Linked DNA regions of Homo sapiens. The protein of the gene in region 2 purifies or fractionates together with the protein of the main gene of each other region. This does not show direct contact. Each region holds a gene or a part of one and is shown on either strand. Other genes may lie near its edges.

Region 1 (8,353 bases), on a different chromosome or scaffold from region 2:
GCTCAGGAGTTTGAGACTACCCTGGGCAACATGGTGAAACCCCATCTGTTAAAAAAATACAAAAACTAGCTAGGTGTGGTGGCGTGTGCCTGTAATCCCAGCTACTTGCGGGGCTGAGGTAGGAGGACTGCTTGAATCCAGGAGGTTGAAGCTGCAGTGAGCCAAGATCGCCCCACTGCACTCCAGCCTGGGTAACAGAGTGAGACCCTGTCTCAAAAACAAAACACCTAGCTTGGTAAATGATTAATACAATTTAGGAAAAGTACGTAATGTAGAGAAATAAAATCTAGTTACACTAAAATTACTCTTTCAGTTTTTCCAAAACAATGCATAAATAATTCAGGCAAAACTTGGCTTGTTGTCTATATCCCCCACACCCCAAATATCCTTTACCCTTTTTTTCTCCTGTAGATATTGATGCCATGCAAATTCTTGAAGAGGAACTAATATAGGATCTTCAAATTTGGATGGATGATTATTCTTCAGATTCTGGATTTCGAAATAGAATAATTATTTTAGAGTTAGTTCTCTTTTAAAGTCAAAATCATGTTCCCCAATTTTTACGGGGTTTCCAGAAGTTTTATACAACACAAGCCCAGGCCATGCAGTCCGACTGAGATATTCCTTGCTCGCTGTCAGAGGCCCTTGTGTTCACCTCCAAGTTGCTCCCCAGTCCAGGGAGCTTATTTGTATAAGTGCCTCGAAGCCAAGAACTATGTCTTAGAGGCTGGGCGCAGTGGCTCACACCTGTAATCTCAGCACTTTGGGAGGCTGAGGTGGGCAGATCACCTGAGGTCAGGAGATTGAGACCAGCCTGGCCAACATGGCAAAAACGTGTCTCTACTAAAAATACAAAAAAATTAGCCAGGCATGGTGGGTGTGTGCCTGTAATCCCAGCTACTTGGGAGGCTGAGGCAAGAGAATCACTTGAACCTGGGAGGCAGAGGTTGCAGTGAGCAGAGATCACGCCACTGCACTCCAGCCTGGGTGACAGAGTGGGACTCTATTTCAAAAAACAAAAAACAAAAAAACAAAACAAAACAAAAAAAACTCTGTCTTAGTATTCCTATATTCCCACCTGCCACAATCTCTGGCACACAGCAGCTGAATAAAGAGAGGAATACATAAATGGGTTAACGCCAATAGCTTTGTGATATGCTATGTTCTTTAAGACTAGTTTTTCCCTAAGTACAACTCTTGCTAAACCTCGGTGGATCTACAGATACTTTACTTATAACTAAAATAAATAAATAAATGTTCTTGCTTTAATTCACTGATGAATGGGGGATGACCAAAAAGATAATAACGTTGTGGTTATACCCCTTAGGAAAAAGAGAAGTACGAAATCAGTTTAGGTTTAGATACGGAATATGTTCTAGTTTGACATAGATTGTCTGCAGGAATCAGAGAAAATTCTTATTGGTTAGCAATCCAGGCTTGGTTCTTGATATTCGTTATACTTTGTCTCCCTCTAAAGCAAGAGAACACAGGTGAAGCAGTAACAGGCCTCTTTTCTGAGTGGGTTTGGGAAGTAGATGGACCAAAGGGAAAAGTGACAGCTGCTGCAGGTGGCACTTCCCTGCTAGGGACAGTGCTTGGAGGTCCTGTCATGGTCCAAAAGAGGGTGCTGGCCTAGCACAGGTCATCAGGGGTGAGTATTCCAAGGGGAGAAAACCAGGATGTGAGTGTGGCCTACTTTGGGAATACTCATGAAGAGGGCAACAATAATTAGGCCATTTCCTTCTGTCCCCAAGCAATAGCTGACGCATCTTGTTTCTCAGTTCCAGTGTCTGTGCTCAGTTTGAGGCAATACTGCAGGTTGACTACTATTTCTTTTCTTTTTTTTTTTTTTTTTTTTTTTTGAGACGGAGTCTCGCTCTGTTGCCCAGGATGGAGTGCAGCGGTGTGACCTCAGCTCACTGCAACCTCCGTCTCCTGGGTTCAAGCAATTCTCCTACCTCAGCCTCCCAAGTAGCTGGGATTACAGGCACCCGCCACCACGCCCAGCTAATTTTTGCATTTTTAGCAGAGACGAGGTTTCACCATGTTGGCCAGGCTGGTCTTGGCCAGGCTGGTCTTGAACTCCTGACCTTAGGCGATCTGCCTGCCTCAGCCTCCCGAAGTGCTGGGATTACAGGCGTGAGCCACCGCACCTGGCCCGGTTGACTGCTATTTCTAACCATCTGGAATAAACTATAAATCCAGCAGTTTTCAAATGAAACACATGTCTTTTTAGTAATTTAGTATTTGTTGTAGAACGGACTATATCCAAATGAAAATGTATGCAATATTTGTTCCTATTCTCTACAAATTTCAATCTTTTGTGTGTTTGGTTTTTACATTTTGTTTTTTATTTTTCAATTGACATATAATAATTGCACATATTTATGGGGTAGTGATGTCTCAATACATATAATGTATACTTATCATTAGCATATCCATCATCTCAAACATTTATTATTTCTTTGTGTTGGGAACATTCAACACAAATCTAAATCTTTGTCAGTTAATCAGGCATCTGGGATCGCTCACAAATTATCATGTTAGGAATACATTCAGATATCCTTTATTAAGACAGAACTAGAGGCTGGGCATCACCGTGGCCCATGCCTATAATCCCAGCACTTCGGGAGGTCGAGGAGGATTGCTTGAGCCCAGGAGTTCAAGACCAGCCTAGGCAACACAGTGAGACCCCCATCTCTTCCAAAAAAAGAAAAAAAAAACTAGCTGAATTTTCATATTTGAATATAACTACAGTAGGTAAAAGTTTAAGAAAGGGAAAATTGACATTATTAATACAATAAAGATATTGTTTTCTCGACCTACTGTCTTCTACATCAGGGGTTGGAGAGGAATAATTTTTAGATTTGTAAACAGTTTTTTGTTTTTTTTTTTAAGACAGAGTCTCACTCTTGTTGCCCAGGCTGGAGCACAGTGGCACGATCTCAGCTCACCGAAACCTCCACCTCCCGGGTTCAAGCGATTCTCCAGCCTCAGCTTCCCGAGTAGCTGGGATTACAGGCGCCCGCCACCATGCCTGGATAATTTTTGTATTTTTAGTAGAGATGGGGTTTCACCATGTTGGCCAGGCTGGTCTTGAACTCCCGATTTCGTGATCTGCCCGCCTCAGCCTCCCAAAGTGCTGGGATTATAGGCAAGAGCCACCGCGCTCGGCCTGTAAACAATTCTAAAAAATCAAAAGAATTGTATTTCACGTTATGTGAAAATTATACGCAAGTCAAATTTCGTGTCCATAATATGGTTTTACTGGAATACTGTCATTCATTTCCATCTCTGTGTCTGCTTTTGCAACACAGGAAAAAGCTAAACAGGTGTGACTGAGACCCTATTGCCAAGAAGGCCTAACATATTTACTATCTGGACTTTACAGAAAAAAACTTGTCAACACTTTCTTTACAATGTGGAGTCGGCACAGAAAATATGTGCCTTCAGAAAAAGAGCGAAAAAAAAGAGAAAAAAAATCTCTGAAACTCATTAATACATTAACTTTGTAATTAACTTCATGGCCATTAACTTTGGTAATAAAAGGTTGCTGATCCCGTCTGCCCAAGCAACACAGACCACAATTTCTACTTTTGATGATTCATGTATTATTTTCACAGACTTCTGATCACTTGTTTTCTTTTTATTATTTATTTATTTTGAGACGGGGTCTGGCTCTGTCGCCCAGGCTGGAGGGCAATGGCGCGATCTCAGCTCTCTGCAAACTCCGCCTCCCGGGTTCAAGCGATTCTTGTGCCTCAGCCTCCTGAGTAGCTGGGATTACAGAGACCGCCACCACGCCCGGCTAATTTTTTGTATTTTTAGTAGAAACGGGGTTTCACCATGTTGGCCAGGCTGGTCTAGAACTCCGCCTCTGCCTCCCAAAGTGCTGAGATTATAGGCGTGAGTCACCGCGCCAAGATATCTTCTATTTGGGAACATTTTGTTGTCAAGTATCCAGCTGGGTACTTCGGGAGTTAAAAACATTAATTAAGGCATGGTCCTGGAGTCAAGTGAGCTTCGGCGAGAAGTTTGCCATGGACAGCATTTCTGGAGCAAACCCTGTAAGAAGGGCTGAATTCTACATGCCGACATTTCATACATTTCTCCTGCATTTCAGGTTGTAAGTGTGCTGCAGCATGACTGATCTGGCCAAATTCTTCCAGTTTCCTCAAGTGCTTTTCCTTTAGTATCGTTCTGAGTGTTTACAAAGAAATGATTTTCCAAAGCACTTGTGAAGCATCTAGTTCGATTGGAACGCAGTGACGGCTCTATAAAATTCAAAGAAAAGAATCTCCCCGCATGAATAGTTAACAAAAATCGCTTGGGCCGAGGTGGCGGGGTTGTAAAAATTAGCTAGTTATATAGTAATCATTTTTCCATAAATTTAAATATCTCTAATTAAAGAAAAAATTGACGTAGAACAAAATCTGCGGGTGTGTGTGTGTGTGTCTCGGAGGGGATTACCTTATCTCCCAGCGCGGTTCTGAACCCTTCCTTCGCTCAGTTCTCCCTTTAAAAGTCGCCAAGTGGAACGCCCGCCCCCGGACCCGCACTTGCCCCCCTATACTCTCCTCCCGGTCCTCCAGACGGAGCCCGCCCGGCCAGGACACGCCAGCCCCTTCCTCGGCCGGTGGGGCCTCGACCCCCGCCGCCTCGAGGAGGCGCGGCGCCTGCAGTCCACGCGGCCGAGAGCGGGTAGCGGGGAGGGCCGCCCACGACGGAGGTTTCTCTGTGGTTACCTCAGCGGCGCTCTTCGCAATCTGAAAGTTGGGGCAGCTGAAGAGCCCCACCACCTTCACCTGCAGCGGCCGCTCCGGCAGCGACGGCGAGCCGCACCTAGCGTGCGGGGGCCCGCACGGCTGCGGCCTTGCCATGGCCGCGCCCGGGGACGCCCGGTGACCCCAAACACTGCGCGTCGCTCCGGCAACCGCGCGGCCCCGCCTCCGCCGCTCGCAGGAGGCGGGGCCCAGGGGCGGGTCGAGGGCGGCCCGTGGCGGCTGGGCCTTTCCTCAACTTTGCGCCTGTTGCTGGGCCGCCGGCGCGCGGGCGGCCGCGACCGCCGGGGACGAGCTTGGAGGAAAAGGAACCGGGAGCCGCCCACCCGGGGGCGCTCTCCGGACCCCCAGGGTCCTAGCGCGCGGCCCTTACCGAGCCTGGGCGCCCGGATTTCGGCAGCGGATCGCCTTTCCGGGTTGGCGGCCCGCCTGATTGGGAACAGCCGGCCGGTTGCCGGGGGAACGCGGGAGTCGGGCCCGACCTGAGCCACGCGGGCTTGGTGCCCACCTGTGCGCGCCGCCTGCGAAGAAGGAACGGTCTGGGGAGAAGGCGCCGCCGGCCGCCCCCGTCCCCACCGCGGCCGTCGCTGGAGAGTTCGAGCCGCCTAGCGCCCCTGGAGCTCCCCAACCATGAAGCCCAACTTCTCCCTGCGACTGCGGATCTTCAACCTCAACTGCTGGTGAGTGCGTCTGCGGAGTGCGGTCTGGGGGCCACCTTCCGTTCGCACCCATGCAGCCTTCCTCCCCCTATCCCGCCCCACGATCTCAGGGTGTAGGGAAAACCCGAACCTCCAAAGTCCACATCTGGCCCCAGCGCCGGTGGTCCCAGCAGTCGCCTCCCCTGCCCCGCTCTTCCCTTCCTTAGGGGCATTCCGTACTTGAGCAAGCACCGGGCCGACCGCATGAGGCGCCTGGGAGACTTTCTGAACCAGGAGAGCTTCGACCTGGCTTTGCTGGAGGAGGTGAGATTGTGCAGCACGGTGCGGAACCCAGGCTGGGAGGAGGGACAGACCGTCCCACTGGGGAAAGACCAAGCAGGCATCCTCACCGCTTCCCTCAGGTGTGGAGTGAGCAGGACTTCCAGTACCTGAGACAGAAGCTGTCACCTACCTACCCAGCTGCACACCACTTCCGGAGGTGAGAAGCCCACTGGCCTGAAGCCTGTTGTCATCCCAGGAGGCTCTTGGCCCTGCCAGCCCTTCCCTATCCTGCCTGCACTCTCCAGTCTCCTCCAGCCTCCTCTCCCTCTGGATGTGAGAGAAGGAGAAGGGTGAACCAAGAAGGTCCTATGACTTCAGCCCATTTCAGCTTTGTTTTCTGGCTGCCCTATACTCCTCCAAAGGCTGTCGCCTTGGTTCTAGGGCTAGTCCCAGCAGTAGAAAAAGAAAAAAATAGCTGATCAGAGCTGGAAGACAAGGGAGGGGAAGAAGGCTGGGTGTCTCTCCCTGTTTTTCTGGTTATTAAGCAGGGCTTGGCTTTCAGCGGAATCATTGGCAGTGGCCTCTGTGTCTTCTCCAAACATCCAATCCAGGAGCTTACCCAGCACATCTACACTCTCAATGGCTACCCCTACATGGTAAGGCAGACCTTTGACCTCTTCCACCTCCCTTCCCCACCTCCAGTAATACAAGGTAGAGGAGGCAGCCCTCTGAGAGCTGCAGGGGATGGGCAGAAAGATGGTGGCGGTGCCCTGAGTTTCTATCTCCTCCTGCCTGCAGATCCATCATGGTGACTGGTTCAGTGGGAAGGCTGTGGGGCTGCTGGTGCTCCATCTAAGTGGCATGGTGCTCAACGCCTATGTGACCCATGTGAGTGAAGCTGGCAGTGCCTAGGGCTGGGACATGCAGCCCAGTCCTGGGACAGAGAGATGGTACTTCTCTAGCTCTCATACCTGGGGATGAGGTGTGGGGGCAAGATCTTATAAGGAAGCAATGGGCAAGGCTTATCCATTGTATACCAAACACCATGCCAAGTGACAGACACAGGCTTGATTCAGACATACCCCTGGGACCCTCAGTCTTATCTGCTGTGATCTCATCTATCTTGCTCAGCTCCATGCCGAATACAATCGACAGAAGGACATCTACCTAGCACATCGTGTGGCCCAAGCTTGGGAATTGGCCCAGTTCATCCAGTGTGTGAGCCTGGGCTTGAAATGGGAAGTGGGATGGGACCCAGGGGCTGAGGGTGAACAAGGCCCCAGTCATGGGGAAGAGCTGGTGATGGAAGAACTCCCGCCTCACCAACCTGGTTCCCCCAGCCACACATCCAAGAAGGCAGACGTGGTTCTGTTGTGTGGAGACCTCAACATGCACCCAGAAGACCTGGGCTGCTGCCTGCTGAAGGAGTGGACAGGGCTTCATGATGCCTATCTTGAAACTCGGGACTTCAAGGTGAGGACTTGCCTGTTACTTCCCCACCTATATCCCCAGCTTCTCTCCCTCCTTCTCCCCCACATCCTAGCATGAGCCAATGATTCCCTTAGGGCTCTGAGGAAGGCAACACAATGGTACCCAAGAACTGCTACGTCAGCCAGCAGGAGCTGAAGCCATTTCCCTTTGGTGTCCGCATTGACTACGTGCTTTACAAGGTCAGGCTCCTCCCTTCAACATGCTTTCATATGCTGTGTCTCTTTGTCTACTAACCTGTGTAGATCCTTTGCTCAGCTAGTCTAGTCTTGGACCACTGATGGGTGGAAAGTGGGGTAGCCGGGAGCTGGTTCTCTGGGAAGAGGCCCTCATATATAAGCTTCTCTCTGGCCCTTACTTTTCCTAGGCAGTTTCTGGGTTTTACATCTCCTGTAAGAGTTTTGAAACCACTACAGGCTTTGACCCTCACAGGGGCACCCCCCTCTCTGATCATGAAGCCCTGATGGCTACTCTGTTTGTGAGGCACAGCCCCCCACAGCAGAACCCCAGCTCTACCCACGGTGAGTCACCCCCACCCTTTCCTTGGCCCTTGCCCCGCTTGAAGCAGCCCTTCCACTCTTGACTCTCTCCTGCCCCACTGCCCTGCTCTGTTGTAGGACCAGCAGAGAGGTCGCCGTTGATGTGTGTGCTAAAGGAGGCCTGGACGGAGCTGGGTCTGGGCATGGCTCAGGCTCGCTGGTGGGCCACCTTCGCTAGCTATGTGATTGGCCTGGGGCTGCTTCTCCTGGCACTGCTGTGTGTCCTGGCGGCTGGAGGAGGGGCCGGGGAAGCTGCCATACTGCTCTGGACCCCCAGTGTAGGGCTGGTGCTGTGGGCAGGTGCATTCTACCTCTTCCACGTACAGGAGGTCAATGGCTTATATAGGGCCCAGGCTGAGCTCCAGCATGTGCTAGGAAGGGCAAGGGAGGCCCAGGATCTGGGCCCAGAGCCTCAGCCAGCCCTACTCCTGGGGCAGCAGGAGGGGGACAGAACTAAAGAACAATAAAGCTTGGCCCTTTAGTGGCTCTGCCTTTTTCCTTGTAGAGGCGATGGGAGCCAGGGGTCAGTGTGACTGTCACACTACAGACCTTAAGGCTCCTACACATCTTCTCCTGTCCCCATACACGCCCCCACCTCCCACCTGTAGGCGGTGTGAACGCTGTT
Region 2 (7,595 bases):
CTCATGACCCCCTTGTGTTTTAGCCCCAGGATTTATCTCGTGCTGACATCTCCCTGCTCATTTATTTAATTATATACTTTGTATCTATCCCCCACCCTGGAATAGCAGTCCCTGGAGAGCAGGGACTTTCCCCTGTTTTGTTCACTGCTGTGTCTGTGTGCCTGGAACCGCGTCTGGCACAGAGTGGGCGCTCTCTGGAGGTTGCTTGGGCTTCAGTCGGAATCTTGCACGTGACTCTCACATTCACACTGTTCCAGGGAATGTCTCAGAGGCGACCTTGACCCTTTTGCTCCTATGACCTCACCTAGTAGCTATTTCTCGTCGGAGCATGGTCAAACAGCCCCCTCACTGCCCAGAAAACTCCCTTGCCTCCTTGCATTTTTTTTTTTTTTTTTTGAGACAGGGTCTCACTCTGTTGCCCGAGCTGAAGTGCAGTGGTGTGATCATAGCTCACCTCCCAGGCTCCAGCAATCCTCCCACCTCAGCCTCCCAAGTAGCTGGAACTACAGGCATGTATCACCACACTTGGCTAATGAATTTTTTTTTCTTTTTTGAGACGGAGCCTCACTGTCGCTAGGCTGGAGTGCAGTGGCGTGATCTCAACTCACTGCAACCTCCACCTCCTGGGTTCAAGCAATTCTCCTGCCTCAGCCTCCTGAGTAGCGAGCAGCTGGGACTACAGGCACGCACCACCACGCCCAGCTCATTTTTGTAGTTTTTAGTAGAGACAGGGTTTCACCATGTTGGCCAGGATGGTCTTGATCTCCTGACCTCATGATCCGCCCGCCTTGGCTTCTTAAAGTGCTGGGATTACAGGCGTAAGCCACTACGCCCGGCCTAAGAAAATTTTTTTGTAGAGGTGGGGTCTTGTTATGTTGCCCAGGCTGGTCTCAAACCTCTAACCTTGAGCGAACCTCCCACCTCGGCCTCCCATCCCATCACACCTGGGATCCCATGAGACATAAGAGGAAACGGAGTAAAAGGGGTTGGAGAACTCTATGGCACCTTTGCAACTTTTCTGGAAATCTAAACCAGTTCCAAAATAAAACGTTTATTTTAAAAGAAAAAATGTGAATGAAGAATAAGGCCATCCAGGATGAGTGACCCGTGTGCCCGGGACTGGAACCAAAGCACAGACGACCCGTCTCAAAGCCACTCCGGCACCACGGTCACAGCCGCCCCAAAAAGGCCCCCCAGCCCTCACCACCCCTCGCTCTCCCGCCCGCAGAAACGGGGATTGGCCTTAGGCTTGATGGGGATGGGTGTCCCCCAACCCCAGTCAGAGGCGGGTGGCCCAACAGCAGCGAGGCTGAGAATCCGCTTTCAAACCCACTTTATTCTTTTCAGACCAGAAACATTCCTCATTGCACCCCCCTCCCTGCCCTAGATCTTTACTGACCAGGGGCCTCAGGAGGGGCTGAGGAGACAGTGGTATACTCTGCCTCCAGGGACGTGGTGCTGCAGTGGCAGTGGGGACTGGCGCGGCCCAGCAGCTCCAGCCTCCGGGAGCGTAGCTGGACTTGAATGGCCCAGATGGGGGGCCGGTGGCCCGGTAGGGAGGGGTCCTCGTCCCTGAAGCTGTAGGTGGTGGAGTCAAAGCTGTCTTCTGTGGCGGCCACCGACTGTTTGCACACGGGGCAGGAGCGCCGGGGGGCTTGGGAGAACCAGGGGTCAATGCATTTGCAGTGGTAGGTGTGGGAGCAGGGCAGGATCTTGAGTTGGTCGCCCTCCTCATACTCATCCAGGCAGATGGCACACAGGTCGTTGTGCCACGTGAAGGTGCGGACCTGGGCCTTCTGGCAGGTAGACGTCTTCACCGGCCGTCTGTGGCTGCAGCAGGCCTGGGCCCAGAGCCACAGGTGGTTCAGGACAAAGAAGGCTGATACGACCAGGGCCAGGGTACAGCCCAGCACCCAGGACACGGTCAGCACGGGGTGACAGCCCAGGTCGTGGCACGGTGGGTCGTCGGGCAGGAGCAGCGCGTGGGCCGACTTGTTGCAGCCCAGGATGACCCGCAGGTCCTGCGAGGCGGCCTCGCTCACGAACACTGAGGGGATGGCGATCTGGCCCCTCAAGTCCTCGTAGACGTGGGTCATGCTCACGAGGTCGTCGGAGTGGACGTTGTGCACGATGGCCGCCTCGAAGCCGGCGCGCTGGGCGTTCAGCACCTTGAGGTCGAAGGTGCAGTCGTAGCGGCGGATCAGCACGATGGCGCCCAGAGAGCGGTTGCCCAGTCGCGGGGCCTCGATGGGATGGCACGCGTTGGCTGGCTTGACCTCCATCAGGTAGCCCCGTATGCCCTCGGGGGCCAGGGGGACGCCGAACAGCGCCGGCAGATCCGCAAAGTCCACCGAGCTCGAGTTGTCTTCCAGCACGGCCCGTACCACTGCCTGCGCGGGCACCTGGAGCAGCGACAAGACCAGCAAGGCTTTGACTGCCACGAGGGCTCGGCCCGGCCGTGGCCACCCCATGGTCACCCGCTTCGCTGTCTGTGTGCTGCTAGGTCCCACTGGAGGCGGCAGGCATGAGGCCTTTGGGCATCTCCGGGGTCTCCCAGGGGGCCTGTGGCCAGGACGCGAGGGCAGTTGAGTTGGAATGACCGCGTGGCTCAGAGGCAGTGACGCGGCCACTGGGACCCTGCTGGCTCTAGGCATTAAGTGCTCCGGACGGCAGAGCGGCATGCGTCGTGTCTTTGAAGGCCGGTCTCAGGAGGTGCTGGCGCAGGTGGCCTTTCTGGCAGATGACATGGAGACCAGGAGTCACCAGGGTTCTAGATGCCCCCAGCTTCTGTGACATCGCCCTGCTACATTCTGTCCCAGGAGCTGCCAGCTGCCTGGGCCTGTGGCCAATGGATCATTCCTAGGTCTGTGATTTGCCGGTACCCGGGCAAGCTTTGAGATAACTTCTTGAAGGCTCAGGGTATCTTTGGACCCAAGGAGGCCCAGGGATGCTTCAAAAGGGCTGCCGGCCCCCAGCAGTGCAGATTCAGCCCTCACTGTGCGAAGACGCTACCAGCATCAGCTTCTGGAGGTTCCTAGCAACACACTGTAGAAGGTTCAATGTTACCCTTGTCTGAGACTCCAAGAGTGACCCAGACTTGTTCAAGCCACGCCCCCCTACAATGAGATCAGTGCTTAAAACCCAAATTCCTGACCCCCTGTCACCATCCCTCACTCTGCTCCAGCCACACAGATCTCCTTGCTGTTCCTCCAACACACCAGGCAGGATCCTGCCCCAGGGCCTTTGCATGGGCTGGGCCTCCTGCCTGGAAAGCCCTTTCTCTCCGTAGCTGGCTCTTTTATCCGGACTCAGGTCTGAGTCCATATATCCTCAGAGCCCTCCTGGACTTGATTTGGAGGGAGAGTCAAGTGCCAGGGTCAGGGTGGGGCTGGTGGGGGTCAGTGGTCCCAAGTCCGCACCGCCAGGTTGGCCTCCAGGCTTGCACCAGCTTCATTCTCTCTCCCTATAGCATTGCCTCTCCAGCTGGGTCTCCAACTGTGCCCCCTGCCTGAGCTTCAGCCCTGGGCATCAGCCTCACCTCCTCCCCAGTCCCCATCCCCCAAATTTCACACCCTCAATCTGTCTGCAGCCCACTCAAGTCGGATTTCTGTCTCTGCCATTCATAAGCTGTATGACATCAGCTAAATTCCTTAGCCTCTCTGGGCCTCAGCTTCCAGACCTGTAACATAGTCTTTCCCATGCTCTAAACTCTCCCATGGCTCCCCATTGCCCTCCAGATAAAGCCCACACTCTTCTCTGTGGCCTACATGCACCCCTGTGGTTGGGCGCCTGCCAATCTCTGAAGCCTGGATGATTTGCAATGTCCCAGAGGCATCTTGCTTTGTTCACCTCTAGAATTTTGCAAATGCTGTTCCCTCTGCCTGGAACAGAATTCTTGCTCCTCAACTTCACTTTGCCAGGCTGACTACTTAGTCTTTAGATTTTCTGTGTTGGCCTAATACCTCTCAGAGCAGCCCTCAGCCAGTGACAGATGGGAGGTGGTAGATAAATGCCCCCACTCCCTCGTCCCTCTTATGGGACAAATCGAAGTATGTTCTACCATATCTCCTAGAGGTCCCCAGTCGAATGAGCTCCATAAGTCAACGAACCCAGTACTGTCTTGTCAATGAGCCCGCTACTGTCTCCTTCCCTTCCCCACCCACTTCTCTCCCCTCCCACAGCTTCTGAGATCACCTCCCACACAAATCTCTTGTACCATGTAGTGGGTGGGCCCCAAATAGAGATGTTGAACCCCTAACCCCTGGTTCTGACCAACCCCTGTGAATGGACCTTATTTGGAAATAAGATCTTTGCAGAGGTTTTCCTTCTAAGAAAGGGAGAAAAGGCCGGGCATGGTGGCTCATGTCCGTAATCCTAGCACTTTAGGAGCCCGAGGCGGGCAGATCAGTTGAGGCCACGAGCACATGCTGCCATGCCCGGCTAATTTTTGTATCTTAATAGAAACGGGGGTTTTGCTAGGTTGCCCAGGCTTGTCTCGAACTCCTGACCTCAAGTGATCTGCCAGTCTCAGCCTCCCAAAGTGCTGGGGTTACATTTGTGAGCCACCATGCCCGGCCCCTGGTGGCACTCCTGCCCCTGCTCTGTCTACTGCCACAGACGGAGGCCACACTATCTAGAGGCCACTGCCTTGGCCACTGTGGATGGCCCTTGCAGCCCAGTGCTACCAAGCAGAGGCAGGTTTTTCAGTCCAGCAGGCATGAGAGGAGGCAAGAGTGGAAAAACAGAAGCAGAGAGGGACAAATGTAGCGGTCAGGCTCGGGTTGGCTGTGGTAAGCAAGACCCAACCACAGCGGTGTAGGCGTACAGGGCTGATTTGCTTCTGAATGTGGAATGTGAGTAGTCATTCCTGGGATGGCATGGAGATGCTGGGGTGTCTGCAGCCCAGACTCCTTCCATCCACCATATCCTCAGTAAATGGCCTCCTCCTCGTGGGACAAGGCAGGTGCGTGAGCTCCAGCCATCACATCTGCCTCCCAGGCAATGAGGAGGAAAGAGTGAGGAAGAGCTCACCCTGTCCCTTTAAGGACACTTCTTGGAAATCCCAGGCACCACTTCTGCTCACACTGCATTGGCCAGAATTAGTCACGTGGCCATGCCTGGCAGAAAGCTTGCTGGGAAATGTAGTATTTATTCTGAATGGCCAACTGTGCAGCTGAAAACCAGGGCTTCTATTACTATGGAGGACAAGACAACAGATGTTGGAGGCGTCCAACACCACCTGTCACTCGGACACACTTGAGTAACCTGGCCTTCAATGGCTGCCCAATACATATTTGTTGAATGAATGAATCCCCACACCTCCAGCTTAGGCCTCCTTCAGTGGTGAGTGAGCTCACTGTCCCTGGGGATGGAAATGAGCTTTTCCCGGGCCCTTCTGTGCACCAGACTCCAGGCCATGTGGCTTCACTCCACCATTCAGCCACTGTGAGCCTCAGTTGCCCCTTCTGTAAAGAGGAGGCAGCATCAGCACCTGCACTGCGGGGTTCGCTGAGCATGGACGGTGCTAAGCATAGTGCCTACCACGTACGAAGTGCTCTGTTTGCATTTGTTGATGGCCTAAGTGACCTGCCCACAGCCCAGTTATAATATTGGGTGATCACAGCTACTCGGGAGGCTGAAGCGGGAACATCGCTTGAGCCTGGGAGTTTGAGGCTGCAGTGAGCTCTGATCATGCTGTGGCACTCCAGCAGCGGGCCACAGAGCAAGACCCCACCTCTAAAAATAAAATATTGAGTGATCAAACTGTGATGGGGAAAACTCAGGCACCGTGCCAACCCAAAGGGAGGCACCTGGCTTATTCTTTTTTTTTTTTTTTTTTTTGAGACGGAGTCTCGCTGTGTCGCCCAGGCTGGAGTGCAGTGGCACCATCTCAGCTCCCTGCAAGCTCTGCCTCCCAGGTTCACGGCATTCTCCTGCCTCAGCCTCCCGAGTAGCTGGGACTACAGGCGCCCACCACCATGCCCGGCTAATTTTTTGTATTTTTAGTAGAGACGGGGTTTCACTGCATTAGCCAGGATGGTCTCGATCTCCTGACCTCGTGATCCGCCCGCATCGGCCTCCCAAAGTGCTGGGATTACAGGCATGAGCCACCGCGCCCGGCCGCACCTGGCTTATTCTAGAGAATCTAGAAGGCTTCCTGGAGGTGGTGTCTTCTAGACTGAGATCAGAATGAGCAGTGGATAGTGCTATGAACAGGAAACGCGATCCTGGCAGCTAGAACAGCACGGGCAAACGCCCTGCCTGAGTAGCCTGGTCTGGCATCCAGTAGATGCTTAATAAGTGAACATAGAACTCCTTGCCATCACTCAGGGCCTGCCCCCTCTGAAAAAGGGTCTCAGCTTCATCCCAGCTTCCTCAGTCCCCCAACAGCCAGGCCTGGGCCCTTCTCCAGACGCCTCCACGAAAGCAGAGTGGTGCCAAGGACTGGCAGCTTAACGAGGCCGGCCTGTGCCAGCCCCGCCAGCCCCCACCTTGGCTGCTGTTCTTCGTGAGAAGCTGCCGAGGCCCCCTCCTGCCCAGCCAGGTGGCGCCCCGTCTGTGTTTGTCTAAGGGGGAGTGTGGCCAAATGGGGAAACTGAGCCCCAGAGGAGGGGGGCACTCGGGGATGGCAGGAGCCACCAGCACTGCCACTGAGCAATGCAGCCTGCAGCCTGTGACCGTGCCTTGCGGGAAACTCCGCTGACCCCCTGCATCCAGGGCCAGGTTCCTGTGGACACCCCATCTTCTAGAGGGGGGAAACTGAGTCTGTGACAGGGGACCAGACTCACTAGGACTACAAAGCCGCAAAGTGACTGAGCTGGGATTTGAACCCTGGCCCCATGAATGCACTCACTGAGTATTTAGGGTTCCCCACTGGGTGCCCACATCTGCGCTGGGAAACACAGCGGACTCCAAGAGTTCTCCAGCCCCTGCCCAGCCCTCAAGGAGCCCCAGGCTTGGGTAAGAGATGGACCCAGACAGCCAGGGCTGAGGGAGCCCAGATAATGGGGTTCAGGGCAGGCTTCCTGGAGGAGGGGAGATTTCAAGTGGACTTGAAGGACAAGTAGGAACTTGGCAAGAAAAGTGGAAGTTGGGGGAAAGAGCACACCAGGCGATGCCTGGTTCACAGTCCGTGTGAAGGGACGGGCGGTGCAGTTGATTCTGAGCATTTTGGAGAATTGCAAAATAAGTCCTTAGGGCTAAGATGAGGGAGGGCTGGGATGTTTGAGGACTTAATTACCAAGTGAACTTAATTACCAGGAAAAGGCATTTGCTTGTGTTGTCACTGATTTGTCTATTCTGCCATTCAGCAAGCATTCCCTGAGGCTGCACCCTGGCTGGGCGAGGCTAGGTAGGTTCCAGGGCATCTGCAAATGAGGACTGGGGCTTTTGCCCACAGGAGGACTCAGGGAGCTCAGGGCTGGTGCCTGCTGGATTAAACCTCCCCACACTCCTGCAAGAGAGGCATGTTAATTCCACCTTCCAGATGAGGAACAGAGAGGTGATTCGATTTACCTGAAGCCACACAGCATACCAGGGGCCAAGCCTGAATTCAAACCCGGGTTCACAGAGCCCTGTGTGCTTTGCTCTTTCAC
Region 3 (3,388 bases), 2.1 Mb from region 2:
CAGAGTGGTATGAGGGGGAGGAATCCAGGAGGAATCCAGGAATCCCATCTGGAATCTCTGGAAAACAGATCAGTGATCAATTGGTGATGTCTGCAGGGGATGTAGTAGGGGTGTGGCTGTGCATGTGCTGTGTAAGAACTTTCTCCTTATAGGCCAGCTGCACCCCTGGAAGCACTGTATAGTGATTTCTACTGCCATTTCTGCATTGGTGGGAATGAGAATAGTGATGAAGCAGAAATGTCTGCCACAGTTCCAGGAGAGGGAGGTAGCAGTGCGTGTGTTATGTGCTACTGACCCTGAAAAATGTGCCATAGCCCAAGCCAATTGAAATTGATCAGGGGGCCAGGCATGGTGGCTCATGCTTGTAATCCCAGCACCTTGGGAAGCTGAGGTGGGAGGATTGCTTGAAACCAGGAGTTCAAGACCAGCCTGTGCAACATAGCAAAACCCCATCTCTACAAAGATTAAAAATAAAAAATTAGCTGGGTGTGGTTGTGCATGCCTGTCACCCCAGCTACTTAGGGGGCTGAGGTGGGAGGACCGCTCGAGCCCAGGAGTTTGAAGCTGCAGTGAGCTATGATTGCGTCACTGCACTCCAGCCTGGGTGACAGAGCAAAACTCTGTCTCTAAGAAAAAGAAAGGGCCAGGCATGGTGGCTCATGCATTTAATCCCAGCATTTTGGGAGGCCGAGGTGGGCAGATCACTTGAAGTCAGGAGTTCAAGACCAGCCTGGTCAACATGGTGAAACCTCATCTCTACTAAATATACAAAAATTAGCTGGGTGTGGTGGCACATGCCTATAGTCCCAGCTACTTGAGAGGCTGCAGCAGGAGAAATCGCTTGAACCTAGGAGGCAGTGGTTGCAGTGAGCCAAGATTGTGCCACTGCACTCCAGCCTGGGTGACAGAGTGAGACTCTGTCTCAAAAAATAATATTAATTTTAAAAATTAAAGATAAAAATAATAAAAATTTTTTTAAAAAGAAAGAAATTGATCAGTAGCTGCAGCCCAGAAGCCCTGAGTCTGAGAAGAGATGTGTGATGTCCCTTGTGGGCTCACTGGGATAGCATGCCATGAGAAATTCAAGATGTTTGCTGTGGGCTTGGGGATGGCGACATCCACAGATGTACTGCCTGTTTGCAGACTTCAAAATAAGCTCACACATCACCACCTTGTGTTATTTGCTACCCAGCACCCTGCATGGGGCTGTGTGGGAAAGAACATGGAGAGATTGATTGGTAATGTCTGTCAAGGGCAGGACAGGGGATGTGTAGGCGAGTGTGCTATGTGCAGCTGACTCTGAAATAGGTTTAGTCTCAAATGCAACTCCCCCAGAGAATCAGGCTTTTGAGGGGCCAGAGAATGGGCAGACAGAGTGGGGACAAGCAAAGCAGGGTTGCAGACATGGACCCAGCCCCTCATTTCCCACAGGATGTGGGCTACCAGTACGGGAAGGCGGTGTTTGGAGGCTGGAGCCGTGGCAACGTCATTGAGAAAATGCTCACAGACCGGCGGTCTACAGACCTTAATGAGAGCCGCCGTGCAGACGTAAGCCTGTGATGCCCCCAGGGCCACTCTGACTCCACTGATTACAGAACCCAAGCCCCCTTAAAGTCTCCCCGAAACCTCAGATGACCCCACATGTCCCTGGGTTTTGCTGAGCTCTCAGACCTCTGCTGACTTCAGAGAGTTCCCACCCTAGGATCTCCTCTGAGCCCCCAATGCACCACTGGGCCCCCCAGGGGCCCCAAGACTCTGTGGGCCCCCCCTAAGAGCCTCACCAGTGTCACCCCACAGGTGCTTGCCTTCCCAAGCTCTGGCTTCACTGACTTGGCAGAGATTGTGTCCCGGATTGAGCCCCCCACGAGCTATGTCTCTGATGGCTGTGCTGACGGTGAGGGGCCCAGGGGACCCCCCAAGAGGGAGGGGAGTGGCTGGAGATGGCAGGCCAGCCCCAATCCCCTCACCTGTGCCCTGCTCCCCGATTCCAGGAGAGGAGTCAGATTGTCTGACAGAGTATGAGGAGGACGCCGGACCCGACTGCTCGAGGGATGAAGGGGGGTCCCCCGAGGGCGCAAGCCCCAGCACTGCCTCCGAGATGGTGAGAGTGGGTGGCCCAGGGTCCCCTCACATCCCCCAGAGGGTCATGAGTACAGTGTCAGGCAGGGGAGCCGGGGGCGTATTTGAGATCCTGTGTGTGCTGGGTGCTGGCTGACATGTGACGCATCAGTGTCCCGTGCTGGGTGACGTGTGTGTGACCTTCCCTCGCAGGAGGAGGAGAAGTCGATTCTCCGGCAACGACGCTGTCTGCCCCAGGAGCCGCCCGGCTCAGCCACAGATGCCTGAGGACCTCGACAGGGGTCACCCCCTCCCTCCCACCCCTGGACTGGGCTGGGGGTGGCCCCGTGGGGGTAGCTCACTCCCCCTCCTGCTGCTATGCCTGTGACCCCCGCGGCCCACACACTGGACTGACCTGCCCTGAGCGGGGATGCAGTGTTGCACTGATGACTTGACCAGCCCCTCCCCCAATAAACTCGCCTCTTGGAAATGGCTTCCTGTCGTTTTCGGACTGGGGACCCACCTTCTGTGCTCAGGATGGCTGGGGCTGGGGTCTGACACCACCTGGTGCTTGCCCCCCACAGGGAATGCCTTTCTAGAATCCACACGGAGCCCCACTAGGTGCTTGTCCCCACTCTGCCCCTTCTCTGGCTCCTCAGAAGCCAGTGCTGACTCCGGACCACAGGGCCAGACATTCCGTGCCACCCTCCCGGGCTCACAGGTGCTCTTGGGGGCCCGATATGGCACCCCTCAATTTCTTTCTGTGTGTTTTTTGTTTTTTGTGTTTTTTTTTTTGAGATGGAGTCTCACTCTGTCACCCAGGCTGGAGGCTGGAGTGCAGTGGCATGATCTCTGCTCACTGCGACCTCCATCTCCCGGGTTCAAGCGATTCTCCTGCCTCAGCCTCCTGAGTAGCTGGGATTACAGGCGCCCGCCACCACACCCAGCTAAATTTTGTGGGGGGGTTTTTTGGTTTTGTTTTGTTTTTTGTTTTAATTTTTGAGACAGTGTCTCTCTCTGTCACCTAGGCTGGAGTGCAGTGATGCGATCTCAGCTTATTGCAGCCTCCAGCTCTTGGATTCAAGTGATTCTCATGCCTCAGCCTTCCAAGTAGCTGGGGCCACAGGCGAGCACCACCATGCCTGGCTAATTTTTGTATTTTTTGTAGAGAAGGGGTTTCACCATGTTGGCCAGTCTGGTCTCAAACTCCTGGCCTCAAGCCATCCACCTGCCTCAGCCTTCCAAAGTGCTGGGAATACAGGCATGTGCCACCACACCTGGCCTTAATTTTTGTATTTTTAGTAGAGACGGCATTTCATCACGTTGCCCA

The links. The genes of interacting proteins can lie anywhere in the genome.
Region 1: the proteins of ZNRF4 (region 2) and SMPD2 purify together in Homo sapiens (affinity purification with mass spectrometry; 2 studies listed by BioGRID and IntAct, with this or other methods). This does not show direct contact.
Region 3: the proteins of ZNRF4 (region 2) and PNPLA6 purify together in Homo sapiens (affinity purification with mass spectrometry; 3 studies listed by BioGRID and IntAct, with this or other methods). This does not show direct contact.

What each region holds. Positions count from the first base shown.
Region 1 is NC_000006.12:109,435,711-109,444,063, forward strand, and holds SMPD2 (sphingomyelin phosphodiesterase 2), read left to right. Parts: upstream 1-5,013; 5' UTR 5,014-5,411; coding exon 5,412-5,461; intron 5,462-5,646; coding exon 5,647-5,743; intron 5,744-5,841; coding exon 5,842-5,918; intron 5,919-6,249; exon of another isoform or gene 6,250-6,263; coding exon 6,264-6,357; intron 6,358-6,499; coding exon 6,500-6,589; intron 6,590-6,832; coding exon 6,833-6,915; intron 6,916-7,041; coding exon 7,042-7,174; intron 7,175-7,266; coding exon 7,267-7,371; intron 7,372-7,556; coding exon 7,557-7,710; intron 7,711-7,806; coding exon 7,807-8,195; 3' UTR 8,196-8,209; downstream 8,210-8,353. Other genes in the region: PPIL6 (probable inactive peptidyl-prolyl cis-trans isomerase-like 6), read right to left, coding at 394-489, 4,746-4,880. UniProt on the Homo sapiens protein: Catalyzes, at least in vitro, the hydrolysis of sphingomyelin to form ceramide and phosphocholine. Also hydrolyzes 1-O-alkyl-2-lyso-sn-glycero-3-phosphocholine (lyso-platelet-activating factor) in vivo.
Region 2 is NC_000019.10:5,450,578-5,458,172, reverse strand, and holds ZNRF4 (E3 ubiquitin-protein ligase ZNRF4 precursor), read right to left. Parts: upstream 2,757-7,595; 5' UTR 2,682-2,756; coding exon 1,392-2,681; 3' UTR 1,317-1,391; downstream 1-1,316. UniProt on the Homo sapiens protein: E3 ubiquitin-protein ligase that acts as a negative regulator of NOD2 signaling by mediating ubiquitination and degradation of RIPK2. Also catalyzes ubiquitination and proteasomal degradation of CANX within the endoplasmic reticulum.
Region 3 is NC_000019.10:7,559,217-7,562,604, forward strand, and holds the end of PNPLA6 (patatin-like phospholipase domain-containing protein 6), read left to right. Parts: intron 1-1,431; coding exon 1,432-1,548; intron 1,549-1,797; coding exon 1,798-1,894; intron 1,895-1,991; coding exon 1,992-2,101; intron 2,102-2,271; coding exon 2,272-2,346; 3' UTR 2,347-2,548; downstream 2,549-3,388. UniProt on the Homo sapiens protein: Phospholipase B that deacylates intracellular phosphatidylcholine (PtdCho), generating glycerophosphocholine (GroPtdCho). This deacylation occurs at both sn-2 and sn-1 positions of PtdCho.